6 separate regions of the Homo sapiens genome follow, and all the other regions are reported to be linked to region 6. Evidence: microRNA targets listed by miRTarBase, many of them from high-throughput screens and not tested one by one. Region 6 holds a microRNA gene; each other region holds the end of a gene's coding sequence.

The links. The annotated mature microRNA hsa-miR-33a-5p reads GUGCAUUGUAGUUGCAUUGCA and lies in region 6 at 2,012-2,032, opposite strand. An mRNA with a match to its seed (bases 2 to 7 or 8) in the 3' UTR can be bound and repressed. Matches are read on the target gene's strand: a 7mer-m8 pairs with bases 2 to 8, a 7mer-A1 pairs with bases 2 to 7 and ends in A, and an 8mer does both.
Region 1: miRTarBase lists NR2C2AP as a target of hsa-miR-33a-5p. The part of its 3' UTR that is shown has no 7-base or 8-base seed match.
Region 2: the mRNA of CEBPG is a reported target of hsa-miR-33a-5p. Seed matches in the 3' UTR shown: 7mer-A1 at 2,626-2,632.
Region 3: the mRNA of DSC3 is a reported target of hsa-miR-33a-5p. Seed matches in the 3' UTR shown: 8mer at 1,501-1,508.
Region 4: miRTarBase lists SGMS1 as a target of hsa-miR-33a-5p. The part of its 3' UTR that is shown has no 7-base or 8-base seed match.
Region 5: miRTarBase lists FBXO30 as a target of hsa-miR-33a-5p. Seed matches in the 3' UTR shown: 7mer-A1 at 1,589-1,595.

Annotation. Positions count from the first base shown.
Region 1 is chr19:19,197,734-19,202,733 of GRCh38, forward strand. NR2C2AP (nuclear receptor 2C2 associated protein) reads right to left here. Exons shown (of 5, transcript NM_176880.6): 3 at 4,737-4,842; 4 at 4,598-4,665; 5 at 3,676-4,308. The coding sequence ends at 4,192. It overlaps RFXANK (regulatory factor X associated ankyrin containing protein), which reads left to right. Exons shown (of 10, transcript NM_003721.4): 7 at 374-499; 8 at 924-990; 9 at 1,421-1,501; 10 at 3,916-4,133. The coding sequence ends at 3,986. Among named protein-coding and RNA genes, the nearest start is that of NR2C2AP, 3.2 kb to the right of the region's middle. RefSeq lists a silencer at 4,657-4,923.
Region 2 is chr19:33,379,405-33,384,486 of GRCh38, reverse strand. CEBPG (CCAAT enhancer binding protein gamma) reads right to left here. Exons shown (of 2, transcript NM_001806.4): 2 at 1,801-5,082. The coding sequence ends at 4,795. Among named protein-coding and RNA genes, the nearest start is that of CEBPG, 8.2 kb to the right of the region's middle.
Region 3 is chr18:30,989,988-30,995,077 of GRCh38, reverse strand. It overlaps DSC3 (desmocollin 3), which reads left to right. Exons shown (of 16, transcript NM_001941.5): 16 at 706-5,090. The coding sequence ends at 903. Among named protein-coding and RNA genes, the nearest start is that of DSC3, 50 kb to the left of the region's middle.
Region 4 is chr10:50,302,868-50,307,957 of GRCh38, forward strand. It overlaps SGMS1 (sphingomyelin synthase 1), which reads right to left. Exons shown (of 11, transcript NM_147156.4): 11 at 2,733-4,454. The coding sequence ends at 4,275. Among named protein-coding and RNA genes, the nearest start is that of ASAH2, 54 kb to the left of the region's middle.
Region 5 is chr6:145,795,762-145,800,844 of GRCh38, reverse strand. It overlaps FBXO30 (F-box protein 30), which reads left to right. Exons shown (of 3, transcript NM_032145.5): 3 at 536-5,083. The coding sequence ends at 739. The region is part of intron 1 of EPM2A-DT (EPM2A divergent transcript); the gene reads right to left. Among named protein-coding and RNA genes, the nearest start is that of FBXO30, 16 kb to the left of the region's middle.
Region 6 is chr22:41,897,891-41,902,980 of GRCh38, reverse strand. MIR33A (microRNA 33a) reads right to left here and starts at 2,037; the gene lies at 1,969-2,037. SREBF2 (sterol regulatory element binding transcription factor 2) reads right to left here. Exons shown (of 19, transcript NM_004599.4): 15 at 4,200-4,332; 16 at 2,483-2,651; 17 at 1-11.

The DNA.
Region 1 (5,000 bases), not on the chromosome of region 6:
TGCAGTGGCTCATGCCTGTAATCCCAGCACTTTGGGAGGCCGAGGCGGGTGGATCACTTGAGGTCAGGAGTTCAAGACCAGCCCGGCCAACATGGGTGAAACCCTGTCTCTACTAAAAAAATACAAAAATTAGCCAGGCGTCGTGGTGGGTGCCTGTAATCCCAGGTACTCTGGAGGCTGAGGTGGGAGAACTGTGTGAACCTGGGAGGCGGAGGTAGCAGTGAGCCGAGATTGCGCCACTGCACTCCAGCCTGGGCAACAGAGCAAGACTCTATCTCCAAAAAAAAAAAAAAAGATGCGGCTGCTGTGGGTACCCCAGGATTCCTGGTTATGCCCCAATCCATCCTACCACTGTCCCTTCTTCTCCCTGCAGGGTGCCGACCCCCACATCCTGGCAAAAGAGCGAGAGAGCGCCCTGTCGCTGGCCAGCACAGGCGGCTACACAGACATTGTGGGGCTGCTGCTGGAGCGTGACGTGGACATCAACATCTATGATTGGGTGAGGGACTGCCCATCCCCAGGACCTCTCAGCCTCCTGGCCTTCATTCCTGCCTCAAATGTTCACAGAGTACTTGAAAGGTGCAGGCCTGCTCTAGGTGCCGAGAACACGAGACAGCCCCATTCCCAGCCTCACAGAGCAGAGCTCCCCATGCAGGGAAGGCAGACATGGAAACAGGCAGCTGAGATGCAGTGAACTGCGCTGCGATGGCAGATGCACAGGTGGCTACAAGAGCCCCATGTGGGCAAGGGAAATCAGAGAGGTCTTCCTGGAGGAAGGTGTCTAAGCTTGAGACCCCAGAAAGTGAGATGGGCCCAGTGATGAGCAGGAGGAACCACGTTCAACTGGAGGCCAGAGAGTACAAGGCATTTTGAGAATGAGGAAGAGGTAAACCTTTGGTTTCTCCTGCCCCTACCCACGACAGAATGGAGGGACGCCACTGCTGTACGCTGTGCGCGGGAACCACGTGAAATGCGTTGAGGCCTTGCTGGGTGAGTGGGAGTCGGGAGTGGCCCTGGGGGCCCCAGCACTCCAGCGGGCCCTGCGGGAATCCTGAGGGCAGGGAGACGCCCAAGTGTTGCTTGAAGAGTTCTTGGAGCAGGTAGTCCCTGCCTGCTCTTCTCGGAGGATGGATCAGAGGGGAGGAGGTGGTAGGACCACACGGGAGTCGGGGTCTGGGTTTAGGATCTGGCCAAGAGGCTAAGCACCTCCATCCTCCATGGTTCAGAGACCCTTCAGCCACGTTCTTCAGTGGAGACCAAGATAGCAGAGGTTGGACCCTTGTCAAAGGCCACATGGGCAACGGGCAGACCCACGGCTGCATTGTGGGGAATGAGGGGTGCCATGGGATCTCCCAGGTCCCCAGACCCCATTCTGGACTCCCAGGCCCCACCCTCCAGCGCCCTCCCCTCTCCTTTGCAGCCCGAGGCGCTGACCTCACCACCGAAGCCGACTCTGGCTACACCCCGATGGACCTTGCCGTGGCCCTGGGATACCGGAAAGGTCAGCCTGAGACACACAGAGCAGGGGTGGGGTCCCTTCCATAGGCAGGGTGACCATAAAGGGGTACATGGGACACCCCTTCAGTGGTCATACGCCGGCAGCGAGAGTGTGTTGACAGGTGTTGAGCACTGCTGTGTATCCCGCCTGGGAACATCCCAGTCCTGGCTCCTGGGGCTCCACATGTGCTGGGGTAGGGAGGACAATGGGTGTCAGTGGCTGTGGCCATGATGGGGGACACATAGGCATGAGAGGCCGAAAGAGGGGCCTCTCATCAAAGAGCCCCAAAGTGGCCAACAGAAGTCAGAGAGGCTTCCTGGAGGAAGGTGTCTTAAGGTTGAGACCCCGAGAAGTGAGGTGGGCCCAGCCCTGGGATGGGGAGGTCAGGGAAGGATTCTGGGGGACCTGAAGGGAGGGAGAATGGCATCCAGGTGGGAGGAGTGGCCCCTGCGGAGGCCTGGCAGTGAGGACACCAAGGGGTAGGCGACCAGGCCATAGTGCACAGAGCCACAGAGGCCATCCCTCTCCGTGGCGGGCAGTGGGTTTGAACAGGGGCCATAGGCAGACCCCAGTTTGACTCCATTTTCTCTGTCACAATGGGACCCCAACTTCCCCATCCATAAAATGGGGAGATCCCAATTGAACCGACCCCCTGGGGTCATGGTAGAGATGGGGTGCTTAGGAAATATCCCCCTCCTTCCTTCAGAGTTTTACTGTGTTTGGGACAGAAATCATTCCTCTTCCCTCCTCATGTTTTCGGGGGGTTTGTTTTTTTGTTCGAGGCAGAAAGTCTTGCTCTATCACCCAGGCTGGAATGAAGTGGTGCAGGCACAGCTTACTGCAGCCTCGATCTCCCAGGCTCAAGTGATCCTCCCACCACAGCCTCCCGAGTAGCTGGGACCACAGGCATTCGTCACCATGCCTGGCTAATTTTTTGTTGTTGCTTTTTTTTTTTTTTTTTTTGGACATGGAGTCTCGCGCTGTCACCCAGGCTGGAGTGCAATGGCGCCATCTCGGCTCACTGCAACTTCCACCTCCCAGGTTCAAGCGATTCTCCTGCCTCAGCCTCCTGAGTAGCTGGGACCACAGGTGCACACCATGACGCCCGGCTAATTTTTATATTTTTAGTAGAGACGGGGTTTCACCATGTTGGTCAGGCTGGTCTTGAACTCCTGACCTTGTGATCCGCCTGTGTTGGCCTCCCAAAGTGCTGGGATTACAGGTGTGAGCCACCACGCCTGGCTGTGTTGTTGTTTTTTTAGAAGAGACAGGGTCTCGCTATGTTGCCCAGGCTGGTCTCAAACTCCTGGGCTCAAGTGATCCTTCTTCCCCAGCCTCCTGAGTAGCTGGGACTACAGGCATGTACCACTCTACCCAGCTAATTTTTAAAATCTTTTTTATTTATTTTTTGAGACAGAGTCTCGCTCTGTCACCCAGGCTGGAGTGCAGTGGCACAATCTCGGCTCACTGCAACCTCTGCCTCCCAGGCAAACAATTCTCCTGCCTCAGCCTCCTGAATAGCTGGGATTACAAGTGCCTGCCACCACACCTGGCTAATTTTTTTTTTTTTTTTTTTTTTTTTTTGAGATGGAGTTTCGCTCTTGTTGCCCAGGCTGGAGTGCTATGGCGTGATCTCGGCTCACTGCAACTTCCGCCTCCCAGGTTCAAGCAATTCTCCTGCCTCAGCCTCCCAAGTAGCTGGGATTACAGGCATGCACCACCATGCCCAACTAATTTTTTGCATTTTTAGTAGAGTCAGGGTTTCTCCATGTTGGTCAGGTGATCTCAAACTCCCGACCTCAGGTGATCCACCCGCCTCAGCTTCCCAAAGTGCTGGGATTACAGGCATGAGCCACCACACCCGGCTGCACCTGGCTAATTTTTGTAGTTTTAGTAGAGATGGGGTTTCATCATGTTGGTCAGGCTGGCCTTTCCTGACTTCAAGTGATCCACCTACCTTGGCCTCCCAAAGTGCTAGGATTACAGGTGTGAGCCACCAAGCCCAGCCTAATTTTTAAATTTTTTTGGTAGAGACAGCGTTTTGCTCTGTTGCCCAAGCTGGCCTCAAATTCCTGAGCTCAAGCAGTCCTCCCCACTGGACCTCCCAAAGTGCTGGGATTATAGGTGTGAGCCACCATGCCCAGGCTCATCTTTTCATGAAAGTCACAATTCACACATTTTGCTTGGTAGGAAATATTTTTATATTAATTCTGAAAAGCTACAAAAGTGCATTTTTACAAACTTAGGGGAAGTTGAGGTTCCTGGGGTGAGTCCTCGGTTCTCCCAGCTTTGCTCTGTAATGCAGGTCTCTGCAAGGGTCCCTGTTTGTCCCCTAAGGGGAGAGCGCAGGTTGGCCTGTGCCTCCACCCCACTCCCGATTCAAGCTCACAGCCCACCTTTTCCCTGCCCCATCTCAGTGCAACAGGTGATCGAGAACCACATCCTCAAGCTCTTCCAGAGCAACCTGGTGCCCGCTGACCCTGAGTGAAGGCCGCCTGCCGGGGACTCAGACACTCAGGGAACAAAATGGTCAGCCAGAGCTGGGGAAACCCAGAACTGACTTCAAAGGCAGCTTCTGGACAGGTGGTGGGAGGGGACCCTTCCCAAGAGGAACCAATAAACCTTCTGTGCAGAATGAGGGACTTTGCTGTGCTTCCCGGAGGGCTTCCTGGAGGAGACAGCCCCTAGAGGTCTCACACCTTCTCCCCAAGCACCCGCAGGTGGTAGATGACCACACGGCCAAAAAAGTCAGTGGCATCCTCAAACGTCACCTTCAGCCGGTCCACTTCAGCAGCTGGTATGGGGAAAGTGTGAGCGTGGGCAGTCAAGGGAAACTGGTGATTTCTGGTTTCCCACCCGCAGGCCCCCACCCCTTCCAGACCCAGCTCACACTCCACCGATGTGGGCAACCTGGGGAAGCTGCAGGTCCCTCTAAGCCTCTCACACAGAACAGGTGGTCATCAGCACCATTTTACAGAAAAAGTGGAGTCCTAGAGGTCACGTGTTCAAGATCACACATCAGGGTTCCCATTCGGGTTTGGGTGAGTCCAAAGCTTCCAGAGGCACAGACCACCCACCCCAGAAGCAGGGGCAGGATATCTGAAGCGAGTTGTTGTCCTCAGGGTAGAAATCTACAATCTTGTGGAGAGCCTGAGTGCCCTGTGAACCTTCAGCAGAGAAAGGCAATGAGTGTCTGGGGTGACCCCTGGAACCCCTGCCACCCAGGGCCTTCTAGTACCTTCCAGGCAGCCCCGGCGACTGGAGAAGCCACCCTGAAACTGGATCTGCAGCTGGGAGACACGGATGAGCTGGGGAAACTCCAGCGTCACCCACTGGGAGGGGCCCTGGAAGCAGACAGGGAAACTGAGGCGCAAGCTCACTGCAGGCACAGAGCCCTGCTATGCCTGTCTCATTCACATAGTTCTTGGAATGGAGGGGAAGAAGGAAATTCGGCACATGTTCCTTTCCTGGCCACCCATGAGGGCCCCCTGACGTTCTCAAG
Region 2 (5,082 bases), not on the chromosome of region 6:
AGTAGCTACCTCCGCTACCCCCATGTTTGTACCTAACTCTGTCTCTTCTAACCTCTGCAGAAATTCATGTAGCTTCAGAAATCCATTAGAGACCCCGCCAGAAAGCTGTATAGTGTGCTACAACCCTTCTGAAACTCAGTGTCTAGGTATTCATTCAATACATAATTGAGCATCTACTCTGCCAGTGCAGGATACAAACATGACCCCTCCTTCCAGAGCCTCTAGTCTGCTGCGAGGCCTTCACCTCAAACCAGCATGAACAAATATATTGTCTCAAACACTGCAAAGTGCCATGAAGCAAGCAACAGGATAGGCTTAGCGTAGACAGCCAGGGGGCTGAGACAGAGAGGGAACTTGTTAGTGAAAAGCCAGAGGAGATGCTTCATTCCAGACAGAAGGAGCTGTCCCAGGAAGGGCAGAAAAGAGCTTGGAAAAGCCCTAGAGCCGAAGTAGAGTGACACAGGAGGATGGAGGGAAATTAAGTTGATGAGGGGAAACGCCACGACACAAGGAGACTGAGTCTCACCCCGGGTGCAATGGGGAGCAACAGATGGTTCTGGAGAGCAGGCAGTGACGCTGCCATCCAGGAACACCAACGAGGAGCCAGTCACCAAGTCCAGGCAAGCGAAGAGGATGGCTCTGCATGGGGGTCGGGGTGGGTGAAGCAGACAGGTACCGGAGCTCCATTTAGAAGGTGGAAGTGAAAGGTGGCGATGTGGAAGCGCATCTGGTTTTAACAGCTTCTTTACAGGGAGGGACAAGAGGTGGCGTTTGGGCTGCAAAAAGTGTAACGCGTGACTGTTTCACTGACAATCCTATTCCTTTTCCAAGTCCAATTCTATAACCCCCATTTCTCTAGATGCCTCTATACAGCTTTCAGGCCTAGAGCTCTGTGAGGAGTGGGATACTGCAGTAAAAGAATACCTAGGCAATGGTGTTCTCTGAATGTATGTAAAACTGTAAAACGCTTATGAACTCTCTGGCTAGGCACAGGCAGTGGATGAGCTGGTCTAAAAGTGCTTTTGTCAGAAAAAGACCGGCCCCCCTCACAAAGATGTCATCACTCGGTAAAATTCCCCAAGACACGTTATTGGATTCTAAATCACAACTAATTCAAAAAAGTGAAACGGGCCACACTTCCCATAGAAATAATTCCTGACCTCCACTTTTCATTAAGATGCAGCAAGCAGAGATTTATTTCCCAAGACATGAAAATAATTGAGGCATCAGAGAAGAAAAGCATTTAAATGGCATTCCCTTGAAATATTCAATTCACATCAGCTCCCTGGACTCAACAGTTTATGAAATCAGCAAATTCATCTCTACAGACACTCTATGACGTAAATGAGGACAGTGTCCACATGTACTACAAAACTCCAGATGGGGAAAGGCCTTACTTTAAATTCTTGACTATCTATCTCGAAACATAAGAATTTCTTCCCTCTCTAAATGGAAACCATGTTCTGAGACACTAGGTGATTAAGCGGGAACCCATTTATTCAGTTATTCCTTTCCCTATTCTGGTATAATTTTTAGTTTAGACCAAGTGACTAAAAATATAACTAAAGATGTATCCCATGTTCAGAGAAAACTATTTTCCTATCCACTAAGGGCAAACGGGGAGATCTAGACTTGGACACAAATACCTCTGCCTGTCTCCCCACTTTCCCCACCCCTACCCCCAGCCGTCCAGTGTGGGAACAGGAAAGACAGCAAGGCACCTGCCTGGGCTTCCCAGCTGTTTAACATCTGGACTGCTTTTTGGTATCTAATATAAAGAAAGCCACGATGAAAGACAAGTCATTGTTCCAAAGTTGTTTTTTATTTTATATTTGTTGAAAGAAATAAAATTATATTTAAAAAAAATAGAGAAATCTCACAAACTGATGAAAGCCAGGAACAAAAAGAACAAGTTAGTACTTTTTCCTGAGAGGCAGATCTAACAGCTGCAGAATGGACTTCTTCCTTCCCAGCTTTTGTGAAACAAAACAATTCTCCTAAGGCATCAGAAAGCACTGAGTGCAAAATGGGTTGTTCAGGTACAAGGTCTCAAGCCCTCTAATGGGGACTGGGAAACGTGAAAAGCTGCTACAATTTCCTCTCCTTTAATACCAAATGTTAAACTGTCTATACTTCTACTTTTTATGTAAATTTGAGAATTTCACACTCATGACCTGCATTTCGGACCTGGTCGTGTTTGATTAAAATCTTACTACTTAGTGATCTGCACTGGCATCCCAACAACTGATTGCAGGGGCCAGCAGCAGGAAGAGCTGCTCTGATCTCACCATCCGCAGCCAAAACCAGCCAAAGAGCACCCATCCCAGGAGACTCAGATGCAGCTAGAAATTTATGCTAAAGCCTAACTCCTAACTATGCTGGACCTGCCCACAAGGGCAGATCACATCCTAGTGGTTCACAGGTCACACACAGAACAAAAGTTACAAAAGTCACCTCACAATTCCCGAAGCTCTAAATTGATTCATTCCCCACACGTGGTTTCCCTAATTTTATACTGATAAATCTATCAAATTAAAAGCTTTCATTTCCAACCACTTCAATAAGATAGACAACACCATGCTTAACATTTTTGTTCTCTGCCTAATTGCTTGCTTCTGCTAAACTTTGCATTTCCATGGCTAATAGGAAAGCTTGAACCCATTTTTCCAAAAGTTCCAATCTTGTGTTCTGATTTGAAATACTGAGTACACACCCCTGATGCTTTCTCTAAAGTTTCTTTTTCAAGATACTTAAGTCAATTCATATAACTGGTATAAATTCCATGGGAGCATCGAATTCCCAAGAGATTTAAATGTCTGTAGCGCCTACCATAGGTGCTTGCTTATACATTCAAGTGACCTAATGCATCTCCAATTAAGTTAATTATGTAACACCAATCAGCTGCTAAGGAGCCAGTAGGATCCTGTGGGTGTGTCCTGGCTAGTTTTTCAAAACATCTCTCATCCTTCATGGGTAGATTCATACTCCAAGGTAAGCTGGTGTTGGACCCTAGAAACCCCTATCCTGTCTCCTGGCTCTATAGGGAGTTAACAGCCCTCCTGGGACAGCTTCTCCTGGGCTCCAGTTTTACATTCAGAAGGACCTCACGACTCTTAAGAATGGCTTTGCTGAGTTGCTGGACACCATGATGTCTTCTCCTGCCCAGAAACGGCACGGTCAGCAATCTTCCACCAACCGGAGGGTGCAACTTGAGTTTTATTCTGGCTACATCATCCCAAGTCCTAGTATGAAACAGCAATGTGGCCAAAAATGACCATGTTCAAATAAGATACCTGATAACACAAACTTTTAAATCAGTTATGACTCAGTCTCTCATCTCCAGCCCAGGCACACAAAAAATACACAAATTTGAGCTAGAACTGTGCTAAGAAAAAAAGAGAAAGAAAAGAAAGCAAAAGAGAGAAGAAAAAACGTTGACAAAGACAATCTAAACTACCAACACTGACGTAAGCCAGACTCTAGAGTCCCTACTTTAGCGACTGCCATTTTTTAGTCTCAACAAAAATGTCAATATCCTGAGTTTTATCAGCATTTTCTGAAATAATTTATGGGACACAAAAGCATATAAATGAATAAACAGAAGCAGTGGTACAAAGTCTGGAAAGCCCACTAACCAGAAAAAGAAATGTCACAACAACAATATCAAAAGATGTATTTAAGAGAAATAAATTAAAGGTTAAAACCTTACACTTTCAAGTTTTCTTAGACAATTATTTTGGGAGATGGCATGGAGTTGATACATTTCTCTAATAATCACTTGGTTAAGATCAAATACCAAAATGAGCCTTCAGAAGAAAATTTTGACTTTAAAAGTAACAGCCCCATGGCAGCTATTTTGAACACAAGAGAAACTACCTTCTGAATTAATATTCCAAACCCTCATCAGTAGCTTGTGTCATCAAACTGTTAAGATATTTTGTTTACTAACTTGGTTGTCAAAATTGTATCCAAAAAAACACTAGCATCTGCAGAAACTAAAATTTTGGTACACAAGTTTCTCTACACCACTGAGTTGGGTTTTTAGAATAAAACAATGCCAATCTAAGCCCAAAGGTATCTCAAAAACATAATTCCTATGCTTTAGTTTTATTTTTGTGTTTAATCTATTTGCTTCCTAAATGTTATTTGTATTTTTTAAGTCAATTGGCCACACACTACCTATAAGATGTGATGAAGTTTCTTTACTTAACCTGACATTGCTACTCAAAAACTTGTACTTTTGGGGGAAAACAGTACTAATTATGTTAAAACAAAGTTTATGCCATATATAAAATCACTCCAAATTACACACTCATTGCTTTCTATAGCTCTACGAATTTATAATACATAATTTAGAAGAAAATCACAAATAGATTACCATAGGTGGCATTCAACTTTTCTTAATCCAATTCAGCCTATCCATTAAAACCAAGAACCTTCTGCGCGGCCTGCCAGTTCCCCATTCCTTTTGTCAACTTAAAAAAGAAGCATTTCTTGGGAAGTCAGGATTTATTAAGAACATCGGGATCCCAGATATTTCTTTTTTTACCATATACCTTAACATTTGGGGGATTTTGATTCCCACAAAAACCTCTATCATTTAAAACCAGATATTCGAATTACAAGGCTAACATTTTTAGCTAATCAACTCTTCAGTGCTGATCCCAGAAAATAGCCTCCAATGGGTCTTTGAGTCATGGAAATGGACAACTTTCAGCCATTGACATGAGTGGTGTCGGTGGTCACACCTTTAACATTCAAGCCACAAGCTCTAAAGTCTGGAAAGGGTGAGGTCTACTGTCCTGCATTGTCGCCATCTGCTGTCGTATTTTCAGTGCTAATGGACTGTACGTTGTCTGCAAGGTTGTGTGCATGCTCAAGAAACAAATCTTTGAGTACACTTAATTCCTTGGTCAGCAATTTGATTTTTGCTTCCAACCGTTCATTCTCTTCTTTGAGCTGATTGACTCTCTGCAGTGTGTCTTGTGCTTTCTGCTTGCTTTTCAACCGGCTCTTTTTCACAGCCATGTTGTTCCTCTCTCGGCGTTGCCGATACTCGTCACTGTTTCGATCCATGGGCGA
Region 3 (5,090 bases), not on the chromosome of region 6:
AGCCCAGTTTTTGCAATATGGGTCATGTTCATTCTTTTTAATTTCATTGAACTTTTCGATGCATGTATATATTTTGCCATGTTTGAGTATCTTGGAAACTTGCTTCTGAAGTTAATGTGGTAAATCCTACCTAGTTTATAACTGCATATAATAGTGATTCAAGTTAACATGTATTGTACCTTTAATATGTGCTGGGCATAATAAGTGTATTATGCGTCATTATTTTGTCATTAATTTCTAAAATAATCTTGTTAGGTGGTCACTGAGACTAAAGGATATTTGGTCACTTGCCCAAAGTCATATAGCTAGTTGGTAAAGCCAGAGCTTTGACTCACAACCAAGGCTGTTTGACATCCTATCTCAAACTCCTAACCAGTATGACTATTGTCTCTATTTTTTAGACTAGACTGACCTCTGTGTATAAAATTTAGGGATAAGCATTTAATGACAACTTGAATGTACTTAAATATAAAACTTGTATACATAATTTTTTATTTATATGGAGCACTAGAAATGTAAACTATACTGACTTTATGGTATGGTTGTGATATAGACCAATCATTTGCATTTTCTGTGTGTAGGAATCCATTAGAGGACACACTGGTTAAAAATTAAACATAAAAGGTAAATAAAAATAAATTTTATGTTCATATATTTAAGTTGTTTAAAACTATAATGCAATTCATTTTTTAAAAAATTTTACAGAAATTGCATCGATGTAATCAGAATGAAGACCGCATGCCATCCCAAGATTATGTCCTCACTTATAACTATGAGGGAAGAGGATCTCCAGCTGGTTCTGTGGGCTGCTGCAGTGAAAAGCAGGAAGAAGATGGCCTTGACTTTTTAAATAATTTGGAACCCAAATTTATTACATTAGCAGAAGCATGCACAAAGAGATAATGTCACAGTGCTACAATTAGGTCTTTGTCAGACATTCTGGAGGTTTCCAAAAATAATATTGTAAAGTTCAATTTCAACATGTATGTATATGATGATTTTTTTCTCAATTTTGAATTATGCTACTCACCAATTTATATTTTTAAAGCAAGTTGTTGCTTATCTTTTCCAAAAAGTGAAAAATGTTAAAACAGACAACTGGTAAATCTCAAACTCCAGCACTGGAATTAAGGTCTCTAAAGCATCTGCTCTTTTTTTTTTTTACGGATATTTTAGTAATAAATATGCTGGATAAATATTAGTCCAACAATAGCTAAGTTATGCTAATATCACATTATTATGTATTCACTTTAAGTGATAGTTTAAAAAATAAACAAGAAATATTGAGTATCACTATGTGAAGAAAGTTTTGGAAAAGAAACAATGAAGACTGAATTAAATTAAAAATGTTGCAGCTCATAAAGAATTGGGACTCACCCCTACTGCACTACCAAATTCATTTGACTTTGGAGGCAAAATGTGTTGAAGTGCCCTATGAAGTAGCAATTTTCTATAGGAATATAGTTGGAAATAAATGTGTGTGTGTATATTATTATTAATCAATGCAATATTTAAAATGAAATGAGAACAAAGAGGAAAATGGTAAAAACTTGAAATGAGGCTGGGGTATAGTTTGTCCTACAATAGAAAAAAGAGAGAGCTTCCTAGGCCTGGGCTCTTAAATGCTGCATTATAACTGAGTCTATGAGGAAATAGTTCCTGTCCAATTTGTGTAATTTGTTTAAAATTGTAAATAAATTAAACTTTTCTGGTTTCTGTGGGAAGGAAATAGGGAATCCAATGGAACAGTAGCTTTGCTTTGCAGTCTGTTTCAAGATTTCTGCATCCACAAGTTAGTAGCAAACTGGGGAATACTCGCTGCAGCTGGGGTTCCCTGCTTTTTGGTAGCAAGGGTCCAGAGATGAGGTGTTTTTTTCGGGGAGCTAATAACAAAAACATTTTAAAACTTACCTTTACTGAAGTTAAATCCTCTATTGCTGTTTCTATTCTCTCTTATAGTGACCAACATCTTTTTAATTTAGATCCAAATAACCATGTCCTCCTAGAGTTTAGAGGCTAGAGGGAGCTGAGGGGAGGATCTTACTGAAAGCACCCTGGGGAGATTGATTGTCCTTAAACCTAAGCCCCACAAACTTGACACCTGATCAGGTCTGGGAGCTACAAAATTTCATTTTTCTCCTCACTGCCCTTCTTCTGAGTGGCATTGGCCTGAATCAAGGAAAGCCAGGCCTTGTGGGCCCCCTTCTTTCGGCTTTCTGCTAAAGCAACACCTCCAGCAGAGATTCCCTTAAGTGACTCCAGGTTTTCCACCATCCTTCAGCGTGAATTAATTTTTAATCAGTTTGCTTTCTCCAGAGAAATTTTAAAATAATAGAAGAAATAGAAATTTTGAATGTATAAAAGAAAAAGATCAAGTTGTCATTTTAGAACAGAGGGAACTTTGGGAGAAAGCAGCCCAAGTAGGTTATTTGTACAGTCAGAGGGCAACAGGAAGATGCAGGCCTTCAAGGGCAAGGAGAGGCCACAAGGAATATGGGTGGGAGTAAAAGCAACATCGTCTGCTTCATACTTTTTCCTAGGCTTGGCACTGCCTTTTCCTTTCTCAGGCCAATGGCAACTGCCATTTGAGTCCGGTGAGGGATCAGCCAACCTCTTCTCTATGGCTCACCTTATTTGGAGTGAGAAATCAAGGAGACAGAGCTGACTGCATGATGAGTCTGAAGGCATTTGCAGGATGAGCCTGAACTGGTTGTGCAGAACAAACAAGGCATTCATGGGAATTGTTGTATTCCTTCTGCAGCCCTCCTTCTGGGCACTAAGAAGGTCTATGAATTAAATGCCTATCTAAAATTCTGATTTATTCCTACATTTTCTGTTTTCTAATTTGACCCTAAAATCTATGTGTTTTAGACTTAGACTTTTTATTGCCCCCCCCCCCCCCTTTTTTTTTTGAGACGGAGTCTCGCTCTGACGCACAGGCTGGAGTGCAGTGGCTCCGATCTCTGCTCACTGAAAGCTCCGCCTCCCGGGTTCACGCCATTCTCCTGCCTCAGCCTCCTGAGTAGCTGGGACTACAGGCGCCCACCACCACGCCCGGCTAATTTTTTGTATTTTTAATAGAGACGGGGTTTCACTGTGTTAGCCAGGATGGTCTCGATCTCCTGACCTCGTGATCCGCCTGCCTCGGCCTCCCAAAGTGCTGGGATTACAGGCATGACCCACCGCTCCCGGCCTTGTTTTCCGTTTAAAGTCGTCTTCTTTTAATGTAATCATTTTGAACATGTGTGAAAGTTGATCATACGAATTGGATCAATCTTGAAATACTCAACCAAAAGACAGTCGAGAAGCCAGGGGGAGAAAGAACTCAGGGCACAAAATATTGGTCTGAGAATGGAATTCTCTGTAAGCCTAGTTGCTGAAATTTCCTGCTGTATCCAGAAGCCAGTTTTATCTAACGGCTACTGAAACACCCACTGTGTTTTGCTCACTCCCTCACTCACCGATCAAAACCTGCTACCTCCCCAAGACTTTACTAGTGCCGATAAACTTTCTCAAAGAGCAACCAGTATCACTTCCCTGTTTATAAAACCTCTAACCATCTCTTTGTTCTTTGAACATGCTGAAAACCACCTGGTCTGCATGTATGCCCGAATTTGTAATTCTTTTCTCTCAAATGAAAATTTAATTTTAGGGATTCATTTCTATATTTTCACATATGTAGTATTATTATTTCCTTATATGTGTAAGGTGAAATTTATGGTATTTGAGTGTGCAAGAAAATATATTTTTAAAGCTTTCATTTTTCCCCCAGTGAATGATTTAGAATTTTTTATGTAAATATACAGAATGTTTTTTCTTACTTTTATAAGGAAGCAGCTGTCTAAAATGCAGTGGGGTTTGTTTTGCAATGTTTTAAACAGAGTTTTAGTATTGCTATTAAAAGAAGTTACTTTGCTTTTAAAGAAACTTGGCTGCTTAAAATAAGCAAAAATTGGATGCGTAAAGTAATATTTACAGATGTGGGGAGATGTAATAAAACAATATTAACTTGGTTTCTTGTTTTTGCTGTATTTAGAGATTAAATAATTCTAAGATGATCACTTTGCAAAATTATGCTTATGGCTGGCATGGAAATAGAAATAATTATGTCTTTGTTGTATTAATGGGGAATATTTTGGACAATGTTTCATTATCAAATTGTCGACATCATTAATATATATTGTAATGTTGGGAAGAGATCACTATTTTGAAGCACAGCTTTACAGATGAGTATCTATGATACATATGTATAATAAATTTTGATTGGGTATTAAAAGTATTAGAAGGTGGTTATAATTGCAGAGTATTCCATGAATAGTACACTGACACAGGGGTTTTACTTTGAGGACCAGTGTAGTCAAGGGAAAACATGAGTTAAAAAGAAAAGCAGGCGATATTGCAGTCTTGATTCTGCCACTTACAGGATAGATAACGCCTGAACTTTAATGACAAGATGATCCAACCATAAAGGTGCTCTGTGCTTCACAGTGAATCTTTTCCCCATGCAGGAGTGTGCTCCCCTACAAACGTTAAGACTGATCATTTCAAAAATCTATTAGCTATATCAAAAGCCTTACATTTTAATATAGGTTGAACCAAAATTTCAATTCCAGTAACTTCTATTGTAACCATTATTTTTGTGTATGTCTTCAAGAATGTTCATTGGATTTTTGTTTGTAATAGTAAAATACCGGATACATTTCACGTGTCCTTCAGTATTGATTTGGTTGAATATTGGGTCATAATGGTTGAGAAGCATGGACACTAGAGCCAGAATGCTTGGATATGAATCCTGGATCTGTCACTTACTTCTGTGTGACCTTTGAAAGGCTACTTATTTCCTCTCTTAGCTTTCTCATTAAAATCAATGAACAATGCCAGCCTCATGGGGTTGTTGAATGATTAAATGAGTTACTATACCTAAAGTACATAGAACACTGCCTGCACATAGTAAAAGAATTATAAGTGTGAGGTAGTTGGTAAAATTATGTAGTTGGATATACTACCGAACAATATCTCATCTCTTTTTAGGGAAATAAAGTTTGTGCATATATATAATCCCGAAACATGATTTCCAGACAATGGAATTG
Region 4 (5,090 bases), not on the chromosome of region 6:
GAGAACACCAAAAATAAATACCACCCTCACCAAAAAAAATCTACACCTATGCATTTCATATTCAATCTGTAGAAAGGCAAAGACAACGAGAAATTTTTGAAAGAAGTCAGAGAAAAAACATATTACCTATAGAAGAAAAGAATAAAATTATGGCAGACTTCTTGTGAGAAACTAGGTAAGCCAGAAGAAAGTGGAGTGAAATATTTAAAATGTTGAAAGAAAAAAGCCAGCCAACCTGCCCTGCAAGAAATGGGAAGTTCTTCAGGCAAAATGAAAATGATGTTGGTTAGAAGCTTGAACTACATAAGAAGAGCATCAGAGAATAAATAAGTGAAGATGAACAAAATCTTTACTTGTTCTTAATTGATCTGTAAGGTAATTGCTTGTTCAAAGTAATAAATGTAATAATGTGTTGAGTGATTATACCATATGGATAAGTCAAATGAATGACATCAATGTTCTAAGGGCAGAAATGAGAAATTGGGAATGTGTTGTTATAAAATGCCTACACTACACTTGAAGGCAGGCTTGTATTTGGAAAAAAGTTTATATTGTAAACTCTAGGGCAACCATTTAAAAATTCGTAAAAAGAATAACTGGTATGATAAGAGATAAAATAGAATCATAAATTGTTCAAAACTAAAGGAAGACAGAAAAAGGAAGGGATGAAGAGAGGACAAATGCAACAAACAGAAAAGAGTTACAAACATGATAGATATTCATTCAGTTATATCAACTATCACTTTAAATGTGAAAGGTCATTTAATTTCCTTCTGACTTGTACTGTAAACTAGGAGATGGATAAGTATTTTAAGGTGCTGATAAGCAGAATACCAAGTCAACAGCTTTGATTTGTTCAAATTGTTTCTTGACTACAGGGAGAAAAAAAAATAAAGGATGTCAATATCTAGTGATCCAAGCAACATATTGTTTTCTAGTAAATTCAGAAATCTGGTTGACTTTTTGTATATTGGTGGTCAAATTAAGGTTGGCATGCATTTCCATTGTATGAGGTATTATGAGATATTTATCACATTGATCAAAATTTGGCATGTGCTTGGGATACAAATAAAACATATAGCAATTAGGAAATCAGTCAAATTTTCCTCTCACACCTTATGGTGTAAATTTCTTGCTCCTCAGTCCATGGTGAGAGTATGCTTTACCACCATAGGCATAGGTTTCTCTCACTGCAGACTCTTACTGAAGAGTTTATGAAAGCTCACAGTATTGATGGGGGAGGGGGGAAACTTGGCTTCCAATAGGACTTTTACCAGTTACCAGTTGCATGCCCTTGGGCAAGTTATTTAATATATCTGAGTCACTTTGGTTGGTCTATCTGTAAAATGGCAATAATAATTACACTTTGTGGATGTGTGAGGGTTAACTAATACATGTAAAATGTCTAACTTAAGTGAGCCAAAAAAAAAAAAAAAAAGACATTGAGAAAGCACATGTCCTTATACAGGCAATCCTTACCAAGTGTACAATGATACTCTAGAATACAATGAGCTTTCTCCTTGTCCTTCCTGGGATTTGCACACTAGAGACCCAGAAGATATGTCAATTCATGAATCAGTGTAGTCAGCCATGAAGAACAATCAGCAGTGGATTTCTTGATACATATGTGGCATGTAAACTCATAACAAATTTTTATATAATGATTTCTAGTTTTTTAGGGAAAAAATCCTATTTTTAGCAAGTGCCAATATATCATTTCCACTTACTCAATTTACTTTCCCTTCAATATGGCAGCAGCTGATAGTCAAAGTTAGTGAAAGGCTATAACAGTTAAATAAAGACCTATCCAAGGGTTTGGCTCTATTTGCCTAAAGAGGCCACCACATTTCCCCTGTCTGATACACAAGTTTAAAGCCCCACACAGGAAAAGTTTTACTGGTTCTAATTTCCTTTTTTTTTTTTTTCGGAGATAGAGTTTCACTCTTTTGCTGGGGCTGGAGTGCAGTGGCACGGTCATGGCTCACTGCAGCCTCTGTCTCCCGGCCTCAAGCGCTCCTCCCACCTGTCTCCTGAGAGGCTGGGACCACAGGCATGTATCACCGTGCCAGGTTAATTTTTGTATTTTTTGTAGAAACTGGGTTTCATATTGATCAGGCTGGTCTTAATCTCCTGGGTTCAAGTGATCAGCCCACCTCGGCTTCCCAAAGTGCCGGAATTACAGGCGTGAGCCACCACACCTGGCCTCTGGTTTTACATTTCTAGCCTCCTTAACACATCCTTTATCAAAGACACATCTCCACTGTTGACATTTTCCTTTAGTCACCACATCAGAAATAATAATAACCTTTTATTCTTTTTAAATAGTTATTTTCCATTACCACTGGTTTATCATAGTACTATTACTCTATTTCTCACTTTGGATTTACTTTTCCTTTCCATCTACACTGGAGAAGCTATATTACTGCCAGATATAGGAAAAAAAACAATTTGGTTGAGAATTAGAGAATTCAAAATGTTAGTAAACATTGTTCTAAAGTTTGAATTTAACTTACATGTGACTCTTTTTATATATTAAAAAACTCTCTAGAATTTACTAAAGATTAGAATATATTTTAAGGAATCCCAAGGAAAAAAATCCAGATAATTATTAAAAGTCCCATGTCAAGCAGAAACACTCCATGAAGAAATTCTGAAACTGATTTTCTATCTTGCTTTAATGGCTCCATTTATGACTTCTGTGAAGAATGTGAACACAGTAGAAATAACAGCCATTTATTTTAAGTATCAGTTTTTATTAAAAAGTGCATTTTGATTAATTTATGATCTAGGTAAGCTGTAAGATACCAGTATACTCTCTGGAATAATAACTTTACAAAGATTTAAAACAAACAAAATTTTAAAAGCCTTTTTATTTCCTTCACCATTATTGTTTTACAATACAAATATCACCTTGTGAATACACAAAAAAATCCTACGGAAGATAATTCTGCTGCACGTAAAATACAGAATGGATATATATACTTCTTCATTCTTAAAAAACTATTTTGTTCTCCACATTGGCAAGTATAGAATAGAATACTTCCCCAAACATATGTATGTTAGGAGTAAAACTTAGAGTTACATGCAGTTTCTGCACAAATATCTTTTAAAGAAATAGATCTCTTTTTTGTTGTTCACCAACAAAATTGTCATGAGAGTATGGATAACTAATTCATAGCTTTCAAGTTTTAGGTAAGTGATCATTTTCAAAACTCTCTTTAAGAAAAGATATTCATGGCTGTTTTCATTGAGTAGTTAAAATTGAACTACCAAATCGACGATAAAATAATTTAAGTGGTACATGTCATTGCTACCTGATCACAATATGTGAACAGGCTCTGACTCTAATTAACAACCTCATTATTTAAGTCATTGCAATTTTAAAACCATAAGCAGTCTTCTGATTCAATTTAGCTATAAATGCAAAATTTAGTAGTGTATACATATATTTATATTTTCAAGGAATACTTTATTTTAAATAAAAACATTTAAGATTGCCTACTGACCATACAATCAAGACAAGAAAGGCACTAGAAACATAGACAAATTTCTCTCCCAAGATGCATTTTTAAATTTTAACTCTCTTCTCTCTGACATGTTAAAAATCTTTAAATTTGGTGTTCATAACATCATTTTGAAAAATAAAGTTAGGAAATACTTAGAAAATCACTTTATAACAGAATCTTTTTTTTTGCACTTTTTGAAACACTGCCTTTGCTGATTTTACAAAACCCAAAGTTACCAAACCTTTCTGTGTCTATCATTTTTATTTGAATATCGGTGCAACAGGTAGAAAGATTTCAGAATCAAACCCCATTCAGGTACTTAGAAACCTTCATAGAGACATTTGCTAGAAAATGGCTTACAGCCCAATCTTTGGGGCAAGAGATATGAAAAGTATGTTTTCCCAAGAAAATAATACGCTTTATTTCCAGATGTGACTGGAAAGACCAGAACTTATGATATAAAAGCTTACATTTATGCTGCTGCATCATATACAAAGGAACATGGTGGTTGCGGGTTATGTAAATCCCAAACTTATGAACAGGAAATGTGTACAGTGCATGATAGGTTAAATTTTTCTTTATTGTTGTCCAACGCAGGTCCTTTGGAGAGAAAAAAAGATCACAGTGCTGACCAGGTAACTCAATAGGTTAAGTCAAGGTAACCATTGAAAGATAATAGGATTAGGGAGGTGTTTATTTTATGGCATCTTCTCTCATGGAGTTCTTAGCACTTCGGACAATTTGTCTTTTCCCCACTTTGTACAGCTGTTATGTGTCATTCACCAGCCGGCTGTATTTAACTTGCCTACTGAGGTGGACTACTGGCCAGGGGAAAGGCCAATGGTAAGATCGAGGTACAATTCCTTGGACATTCTTTTCAAAGTACTGAAATGGCCTGTACCACCACACCCTGGCCAGGAGGTTCATCTGGGAAGCTTCCTTTAGCACCTAGGATAACAAAGAAACATAAACACATTTCTTACAATCTTTCACTTTAAGTTCAAATACTTGCCACGCTAAAATTCCCAAAGGACTCCATACCTGCCCTGCGTGTCCACCCACATATCCCAGCTTCTCTCTCTCATCACCATTCTACACTCCACATTCATCTACAAACTGAGCCACATCCCAGTAGAAAAACAACGCCAATTCTGGGAGGGCAAGGAGAACTTATGGCTCACTCATCTCTTGCTTATAAATAAACACCTCAGTTAGCTTTTTAGGTATTCCTCTTCTATGCTAAAAATGTTAACACTTAATTAAATGTTAAATATTAAGCTTGTGATGTGCCCCGGGTAGGGAGAAGAGGATAGGAAAGCAAATCAAGCAAGGAGGGACACAAGCTTAGAAAATATTTTTCATTTTTCAAGGACAATGAAAGTGCGTTCCTTATTCTAGAAGGAAGTAATTCCTCACATCATTATATTAATAAACTTTTTATTCTTAATTCTGAAGAGAATCAATGTCACAAAAAAACAATACAATCTTAGTTGATTACTACTTAAGAAAGAGAAACTTCAGACATCCACAGGTTCTTTGCACCCTGTCCAAGCCAGCAACATCAAGCCAGAAACAACAGAAGCT
Region 5 (5,083 bases), not on the chromosome of region 6:
ACCTTTAGTACTTGTGAACAGCGGAAAAAGAAACTTACCTTGGCACACAATATTCTAGGGTATTTTTTAGTACTGATATTATAAATAGGAATGGGAGAGAAAAACTTGGAGAAAAAAAATAACACTTGCATTGTCAGTATCTCCAGAGTGTAATTAGTTCTAGATAGCCAATTGGAGAGTATGAAAGAATAGTGTGTAGTATATAATATTTTAGGAAATGGCTCTGAATTTGTGCAGTTTTGATTTTTTAAAAATCATTTAGTAAGCCAGATTGGGTGTGATTTTTAATACTGAGTTTTGTCTTTTATTGTTTTTAGATTTATTGAAGTCATAATGTCATAGAAGTGATTTACCTTGTAAATATTTGACATACATTTATGTCCAAAAGGATTTACCAATTTTTAATTTTATAGCTATTTGAAACTTTATATTGGATGCTTCTATAATAGCAGAAATGTATGCAGTAGGAGCAAAAAGTGTGTTTTGATTCTCTACACATTGACTTGTTTAAATCTAAAGTAGAATTTTCTTGTAGGTATGGCGATTTAGTACTGCATTTTGTTCTGTTAATGAATGGAAATTTGCTGACATCCTAAGCATGGCAGACCACTTGAAGAAATGCAGTTACAATGTTGTCGAGAAACGGGAGGAAGCAATCCCTTTGCCATGTATGTGTGTGACACGAGAACTCACTAAAGAAGGACGTTCACTACGCTCAGTTTTAAAACCTGTACTTTAAAAGTTGTAATATTACTAGCACATATATGCAAGCACCTAGTATAATTTCTTTGTAATATGTGAAACTTTATTAATGTATTAAATATTACAACTAGCTAAATTTATTGTCACTGTGTATATAATGTTTTGAAGTGACATCTATTTTTATAAAGTACTGTTTAGTTGGAAAAAGTTGCCTTAATGTTTGAAATGTGTGAAATTTTTGGAACTTGCTGGACAGGGTGATTTAATTTTTAGCTACATAATTTTAAGAATTAGTATTTTCAGTGGTGTGCATATTTTGGTTCTTAAATTTTTGCTTCTTAAACTAAAAAAATCCTGACCAATTTATTTGTTGTTTTCTGTGGGTTGCGACCCATGCAATCAAAAAGCAAAATTTTGATTGAGATTTTTTACAGCATAGGTTTTTCATATAAAAATATTCTGAATTTGTTAAGCACTGCCATAATATCATTATAATGTTTTTGTCTTTTAGTGCTTCCCTATACAATTGTTAATGCACAAATGATCTCTAATATATACTTACATACGTAAAATCATAAAGTTTGGTAATGCAGTTTATCGTTTTAAAAATAATCCACAAAGATGTTTTTATCTCACATACTTACAACTCAACACACAGAGTGACCATGTGCAGCTTTCTTTTTTGTTAGATGCCACATCCGAAGACTCATCGCAGTGTGTTATATGACAGGACAAAGCAAAAACAAACAAAAAGCAAGCCTGTGAATATAATTTAATTTGAAACTGCTCCTGGTATTATATATTTGCTAGTTATCTAATGTTTTAAAAGAAAATATACCTCATTTAGGTTTGAATTGGGCGTATTGTGTAAATTTCAAATATTCAGAATGCAAAGGGCTTGACTATTAAATGTTTGCCTTTGATGTTTATAAACATTACAACTATGTTGTTTTAAGACATTTAAAAACGTGAAATTTGTTATCTTTGTAAAATGACAATCATGTAGAAACCTGTCTTGGTTGACAATCTCTTTGAAACATTTCCGAGTTAATTTCCCATAGGCTTCACCACCAAGAAAGTAAGAATTGCATCTTTACATAATGATCAAGGTATAATGGAAAAATATACCTATTCTTGAAGTAGTTTATTATAGTTTTCAAATTGATTTATACCATTATTAACCTGATGTGGTCTGCTTAAAAAATGAATATATCAGTATTTAGAAATAAATTGCAAAGGTGGGAATATATACTTAAATAATTTGTCTTAAGTAAATTAGCATTTGGTAGTCTGAAATGGTGACAGATTACTTGTTAAAATTGTGAAAACTCTGTTGTGTCCTCTCTTCCTACATTTGTCCCTGAGAGTACTCCACGATTACTAGGTTCTTGATTCCCTTATATGGCAATCAGGCAGAGGCGTTCCTTAAGCATTAGAGAGTTCTGAAGCTTAAGATTTGTTTTGGTTGGATGAAGTCCTTAGTACAGTTGAAAAACAGAGCATTAAAGACTAATCAATTGTTTTGCCTCACCAGTCATTTTAAATAGTAGAATACTTATTTCTCAGTGCTTAAAATTTCTTTTTCAACTGTGAGATTGAATAAACAGTCTCTATTTCTGTGGAAAAAACAACAGAAAAGAGATATTAAATACCATAAAATGTAACTCTGCCTTTTAAAGTTTTGCTGAAGAATGTGTCTGTGGTTAGGATAGCACAAGCATTAACTTTTGTTTTATAGTTATGCTTTTTAAAATTCATTGTTTTTAAATTTAGACTTCTTATTTCCACACTGGATTATGAGATACTTAACAATTTTTCCACCTTATATTTCTTTTACACATTTTGCTGTTCTCTTTTTTGTTATTGTTATGCCACCATACCATTTTGTTAAAATGTTTTCTTTGTGAAACATTTGTTCAAGTTCTAATAAAATTAATGTTTTCCCTTAACATGGCTCAATAACTTAAAAACGTTCATTTAAATAAAATTTTAATACTTGTTTGACAAATTCCAACACAATCATATTGTTTCTGTAATGTGGATTTTCTGCATGTTATGGTAGTTGTTGATTATCATCATTACTCACCCATGTTTTACTAGTGAACCTTAATTTTTTTAAAATTTGAGACACGCATTAGTTAGCTTTCTCTGATCCTTCAGTGTCTCGAAAGTAATACCACCTAGGTGCACTGAAAGGCGGAAGAGTTTCTAGCATGGTTATAGCTCTAAAAGTTGTCATGGAAACCATCTCTCTCTCCTCTTAAGTATGAAAAGGTTTTTATGTTGGCCTAATAGATTGTACTTTGAGAAGTCATCATTGATTCCTTAGTCTTTGCTAAATAGCAAGGTAAAAGGCAAGCATCGGGATGGAGGGAAGTATTTGAATTCACTTTTGTCCTCTGCCTCCTTCCTCAATACTGCCTGTTAGCTTAATCTTTCTCCCTCTCCCTTTCCCTTCTCCCTCTCTCACTCTTTTTTCTAGATTTTGAGACTCACAGATCTTACAGCAGTGGTTCCTAAAGTGTGGTCCTTGGACCAGCAGGAACATCAACACCTAGGAATTTGTTAGAAATGCAGATTATTAGGCTTCTCTCCAGACTTAGTGAATCAGGAACTCTGGGGTGGGACCCAACAATCTGTTTTAACAAGATCTCTAGGTGATTCTAACGCACAGTAAAGTATTAGAACTTAGAGGGAAGACTGGGTCATGCCAGCTACCCTCTGGTGCATTACTGGAGTGGATATATGTGTGTACCTGTGTGTGTTTGTATAAATATATGTGTAATCCAAAAGTCAGTAATGGTAATTTATTAATGGTTAAACTATATATGTTGTCTCAATTTTACAGCCATATGACAAAATACACTGGGTACTGTAGTTGTTGGACTTGTATTCTTTAAATTAGTATTTACTAGTATTTAAAATTTTACTAAAATTTTACTAGTGTTTCTTCTGTTCAAGGTAAATTGCAGTGCAAATTTTAGTTCATTAGCAGTAACATTTAGCCTAGTCATCTCATTCTCTTGTTTAGTGGTTGTAGAGTCGTGAACATATTCAAATTGTAGGGTAATCAAAGAGTAGAAGTAGACAAATATTGGATTAAATCCTACAAAAAATATTTTTAGGGATCTTTTCAACCCTATCAATAAGATGTTATGAAAGATTGGATCTCTTGTTTACAAGTAGTATAGAATCTTTTTTGATCTTTGACTCTGTGCTGCCTATCTCATCAATGTTGTTGCTATTAATATCTGTCCTTTAACACTGGATGTTGGGATCTTAGTAATGTTGCTGATAATAGGATTTTCAGCAAAACTTCCATATCCCTTGAAGATATGGTAGTTTATATTACTATATCGATAACAGTTTTGCCTGTGGAGATTTGACTAGTTTTAGGTGTTTGGAAGCAAAACAGATTTCTTCATGTTTTGCATCCCAACCTGAAAAGACATGGGGTTTATTAATTTTAAAATTTCCTAAGGAAAAGTTATTCAAATATTTTAAAATGTGTTTGTTTCATGCATGACATGCCACATTGGTGATGTGATTGGAGCTTGCAGAGTTGGTTGTTTAGAAGTGCAGTAGAGAGAAAGCAATTGGCCCTCATTCTCTGGACAGACTTTTGATGGAAAGAATTTCTCTGATAGGTGTTTGACTGGTTATCTAAACGTTGCTGTTAAGTAGTCTTACTTAAGATGCTCATAAGGTCTAGGAAGCAGAGAATATTAGTTATACCTTTATCAACTCATCAGTGACTTGTTTGATGGTGTTTAAGATAATTTAATAATGGGGTTTGACAGGATTTGTCTGATTTCCAAAAAAGCAAAGTTCGAATTCAGAAAAGATCAACTCTAATGAAGTCCTTTCTAAATAAGGGAAAAGGAAAGATGGTTTGCTTTTGAAGTCATCTTTTACATAATTATTTCCCTTTATTTAAAAGATTAAAGTGAGATCAAGAGATAAAACCTTTCAAATTTGAATTTTATGGATGAGAAAATAGGTACTCAAAATTTAGGCAGTGATTAGTGTACTGGGATATTTGAGAGAGAATTATGTCCTTACATAGATCACTTTTTCACTTTACGAATGCAGGAAGAAAAGAGATGTTTAGATGTAAGGAAATTTGGAAAATGTTGCCTAGGATATTTGATTCCTACTGCTTTGGAAAGCATTTTGGAGCAATACCAAAAGGAAACTAACTAACCAAGTGTGATATGTTGCTCTGAAAATCTTTGCGAAATGAGGGCCTCTTGCTGAATTTTACAAGTAGGTTATTGCATCTATGATTAAACTTTTTTAAATAAATTGCTTATACATGTTTATTTGACATATATAATCTTCATAATTGGCCAGTACACCTTGAGATGTATTAATGGCGATA
Region 6 (5,090 bases):
AGCTGGACCACCTGTGGGGTCAGCCACGAGAGAGGGGAGACAGGTGACTGGCCCATCCCTGAGGCAAGGATCCTAGCACCTACCAGGCCTCTCCCCAGACCAACACTCAGCAGCTCTGGGAGGAAGTGGAGAGCCCCAGAGTCTGGTGAACTCCGCAGGACGTGAGGGAACAGCTCAGGGGAGAACCAGTTCCTTCCATGGCCCCAGGAGGTGGGAGACAAGCCCTCCCCATTCTGCAGGTGAGAAAGCAAGGCTCTGACAGGGACAGCAGCTTGTATAGGGAATACAGCACAGGCAGGTGGCAGGGGCAGAAATAAAACCCTTGTGGGTTGAAGGCGCAGGTTCTTCCACCCCATGGGAGTCCCACCATGGCTGGCTAGGAGGCTGAGATACCCACAAGGTACCAAGGAAAAGCCTGAAGTGGCAGCAGAGCCTGTCGATGGGGCTGGGGGAAGGAGGAGGAGGAGTGGGAGAGGGAGACAGGTGTCTCAGAAGACAGAACCACAGAGTGCCTTAGTGCTTGGGGACTAGGCCTACTGACCCGGCTTTGCCACTTACTAGCTACATGACCCTGGCATAGGACTTAGTCTCTCTGAGCCTCAGTTTCTTCATTCAAAAAAATGTAAATGGCACCATCACAGGGCTGTTGTATCATATGAGAAGGTACTGCATGTGGGCCATGCATACTCTCTGCCTACGACCTATGGGGCTGGGCTGCCCACCCGGCTCGCAGTGGCACACCTGCACGACACCGAGCAGTGAGGAGTCCTTGTTGAGATGGGCCGCAAGCAGCCCTCCGGTCCTGATGAACTCCCTCAGGCTGAGCCTCATCTCACCCAGCCCTGGCTTTCCTCCTTCCCAGGACACTGGGCCTGAGGAAGACCCTGCCCTGTCCCTGCACAAGGCCTTGATCCTTGCCTACACTGTTTTCTGGCTGTTGTGTGCTTCAAGGGGATGTGGAAAAGGATCCCTCTCCTCAAAACCTGGCACTTCTAAGCTGTGCATGCTGCAGAAGCACCTGTGGGCATGGAGGCAGCAGGCCTATGTCTGGATTCTGCCCTCCGAGGGCCATCAGGCTGCATGGCGTTGTCTTCTAGGCTCACTTTCCTACCACAGAGCTGCTACCAAGGAACCCCAGTCCAAAGGGTGGCTGCAAGCCTCTCATTCCCCAAACTGAGCCTGTACTGTTTGGTTCTCTCATGAAGACAAATACGGAAGAGACTAATGGAAAGCCCAAAAGAGAAGGTGAAATGTGGCTCACCATCTGCCTTTGGTCTTGGCAGCCCAGGGCATTTGGGCACCCCCACCAGCTTTTTTTTAAAGATGGAGTCTCGCTCTGTTGCCCAGGCTGGAGTGCAGTGGTGCAATCTCGACTCACTGCAACCTCTACCTCCTGGGTTCAAGTGATTCTTCTGCCTCAGCCTCCTGAGTAGCTGGGATTACAGATACATGCCACCACACCTGGCTTATTTTTGTATTTTTAGTACAAACGGGGTTTCACCATGTTGGTCAGGCTGGTCTCGAACTCCTGACCTCAGGTGATCTGCCCACCTCAGCTTCCCAAAGTGCTGGGATTACAGGTGTGAGCCACCGCGTCCAGCCAGTTTGGGCCTTTTCTGCACATTGCCTGTCCCTGTAGGGGCTGCCACGCTGTCCTGGGTTCATCCCAGTGCCCAGGTCCACTGACAATATCTAGCTTGAAGTACTAGCCTAGCCAGCTAAGACCAAGCCCCAGGGAGTGGCTGAGAATCTGAATCTCCAGGACTCTCCCGGTCCCTCCCACTCTGGAGCTAAGGACATGTTCCCCGTAGACCAGGTGATGCTCCACTTTCAGCTGGGTGCCCTCCTGTTTCCTGGGATGGCTGTGACTTGGGCCCCAACAGTGGCAGCAGTGCCCTCTATCAGGATCCCCTCCCCCACCTGATAGGGCCTTCAGTCAGGGCAGTCTCTCGAGGGCCAGGCAGGCCTCTGTGATGCACTGTGGAAACATTGCATGGGTACCACCAGAACATGCAATGCAACTACAATGCACCACAGCTGCCCGCCAGGAGGTATGCGGCCAGCCAAGGAGGTGCCCAGGGTGGTCTTCAGCTCTGTTTGTGTGCCCGAGGGGGCAGGAACCCACTCCAAGGCTGCCTGCAGAGGCCTGGGAAGTCACGCAAACCGCTGGAGCAAATGCAGGTGAACCCCTGGCCAGCTGGGGTGCACCTGGGCTTACAGAGGCTATGGGCCAGCAGGACCTGGGACTCTGGGAGCCTAAGAAAGGTGCAGGTAGAAACACACTTGCCTCAGAGGCTGAAAAGGGATGAAAAAGGAGTCCACCTAGGCCAATAAGCCGTAACTTTTTTGAAAGGGGGCTGCTGTCCTGGTTTCTCTGTCTTTCGGATGGCCCCACCCGCAGGGTCAGCATGAGGTGAGTGGGAGTGTTCTCGTAAACCAGTGCAGAGCACCTCCCCCAGGGGCCAACTCAGCTCCCACTCACGTGGTTGAGGGCAGGGTCAGAGGTGGCCCCACTGACGTTGAGGCTGCTCCATAGGTGGCCACTGGCCCTCTCGCAATGGCAGAAGGAACTCTGCTGCCCATCTGCTTTCCCAGGGAGTGAGGCATGCATGGCTCTGCAGGCATGGAAGATGGCCTTCACCAGGGGGCTCCTGCAGCAGTGACAGGGAGTCGAGAGGCAGGTCACTATGTGTCACCTGCGTGACAGGCAGAGGGGCCCAAGCCAGTGACTGCCACGCCCCACACTGATATGACATGTGCATCTGTTGACTCCAATGCTGCCACTATGGCACCATGCCACCAGCTCCAGATCTGAAATGCCAGCCCTGAGCTAGGGTTAGCGCCCCACCCTTTAGCACCTTCATTCAATGCTGGAAGTCAGAGACACAGGCTTCACCATCACGTCTGCTGCTAAGAAGCCACCCAAGATAGTCATTCCAACGTGTGCCTCAGTTTCCTTACCTATAAAGTGGCCACAATAAGGTGTTGTACCCGTTCTTTAAGGGACCACCCCCCCAGAGATGTGGTATTAAACTCTCTGGAGATACTTAGTTAGCTTCTTTCTGTAGAGGAGACTGGGAGTGGAAGGGGAGGCTAGGGATGGGGGAGGGTTCTCATAGCATCCTAGTCCCTGAAAAGCAGAGGGACCCAGGGGTAAGTGAATCCAGCAGGCAGCAGTGCCTGCAGGGGTGTCTTGGCTGTCCATGGAAGCTCTGCTGCTCTGGAGCGAGGTGACTTTGGACAACTTACCTGCTGAGTCTCAGTGTCCTCAGGCACATCGACTGGGGGAGACACACATACAGGTGGAATGCTATACCGGGCTGGGTGCTTACCTAGTCAGAGTGCTTACAAATGGGGCTACTTCAATGAAATTAGGGTGTCACATCTACTTCAGGGAACAAAGGACTTCAAGCCTGTGTATACTCACTCTTCTCAGCTCCTTCCTGTGCGCCGGTTAAGGGTCTGCTTGATAGGAAATGCTACAGCCTTGGCTCTAAGGATAGGACCTCGTGGGGCCTTTCTGTCTTGGAGCATTTTACAGTTTCTCTTAGAATACTCAGATCCAATTAGAAACAGCCGGGGAGTCAGCAGGCAGGGCTGCCCATCACTAGTGCCGAATGCCCCCAAGACGCAGACATGAATCTCCAAAGAGGAATGTCAAAAGCTCTCCGGTTATGCCATGTGCTAAAGGCTATTTTAGTTACAGGACAAAGTTGCCAGGGTTGATGGTGGGGGTGGAGGTGGCTGGAAGGAAAGTGGATAAAATGCTAGCACACAGGGGCAAGATGCTCCAGTGCACATGAGTTTTGGGGGCAACAGTGGCCTCTCTGCACTGATTGTGAACCACCAGTGCCTGCCTCCACCACAAAGCTTCTGAAGATGCTGGGGGCCACACTGCTCTCGTCTCTTCTTTTCAGCCTGTGGCGCCATGAAGGCTGCAGGGAGGAGGACCCGGACACAGTGCTGACAGCTGCTGGGACAACTGTCGTGTTGTGCAGAGCAGGACACTTGCACAGAGGACCTGCTGGCCCAACTTGAGTTCTCCATGGTGCCCTCACCCCCGACTTTTCTAGCCGCCCACCTGTCATGCAGTCCTGACCCTTCACCCCAACACGCCCACCCAGTCCAGTTTGCTCCTGCTAACTCAAACAAGATTCCCCTGGAGAGAAGCAAGTGAGTGGCCAAGGAGGGTTACGCACTCTGTCACTTCCAGGGCCTTGGGGATGCGTTCCACTTTGGTAAAATGAGAGCGCACAGCTGCATCGTCTCCCTGGAGCCAGCTGATGGCCACAGTGATTGCAGACGTCCACCACCGACAGATGATGTCTGGACCTAGAGGAGAACAGCACCAAACGCACTCCAGCACCCACAGAAACGAGACCTGTGGCGCTCAGAGGCTGCTACACTTCCTTCCTAGGAGATGGGTAACATCTTTGCCTGCTGGGAACGGGCCAGCAGCCTCTGGGCTCCCACACCCAGGATTCTGGGGGAGGGGAATAGACCAGCACAATCTTGGAAAGTGTTTGGCAATATATATCAAGAGCCTTAAAAATGTTCATTCCTGGTTGGCCGCGGTGGCTCACGCCTGTAATCCCAGCATTTTGGGAGGCTGAGGCAGGTGGATCACCTGAGGTCAGGAGTTTGAGACCAGCCTGGCCAACATGGTGAAACCCCCTCTCTACTAAAAATACACAAAAAAATTAGCTGGGCATGGTGGCGGGTGACTGTAATCCCAGCTACTAGGGAGGCTGAGGCAAGAGAATCGCTTGAACCTCGGTGCGGGCGGAGGTTGCAGTGAGCCGAGATCGTGCCATTGCACTCCAGCCTGGGCAACAAGAGTAAGACTCCGTCTCAAAAAAAATAAAAAAGTTCACTCCCGTTAAGCTAGTAATCCCATTTTTGGCAGTCTGTCATAATGAAACTGGCTTAGAGAGAAAAAAGTTTAACACATATTTGACTGCAGTGTTGTTTTTAAATAAAAAGATGGATACAACCTAAGCTTTCAATAGCCATAAAGAATGGTATCTTCAAAGTATCTGGAACAGGCTCCTGTTAGAATATTTTAAGTCTTCTCCTCTCTCAGCCTTAGT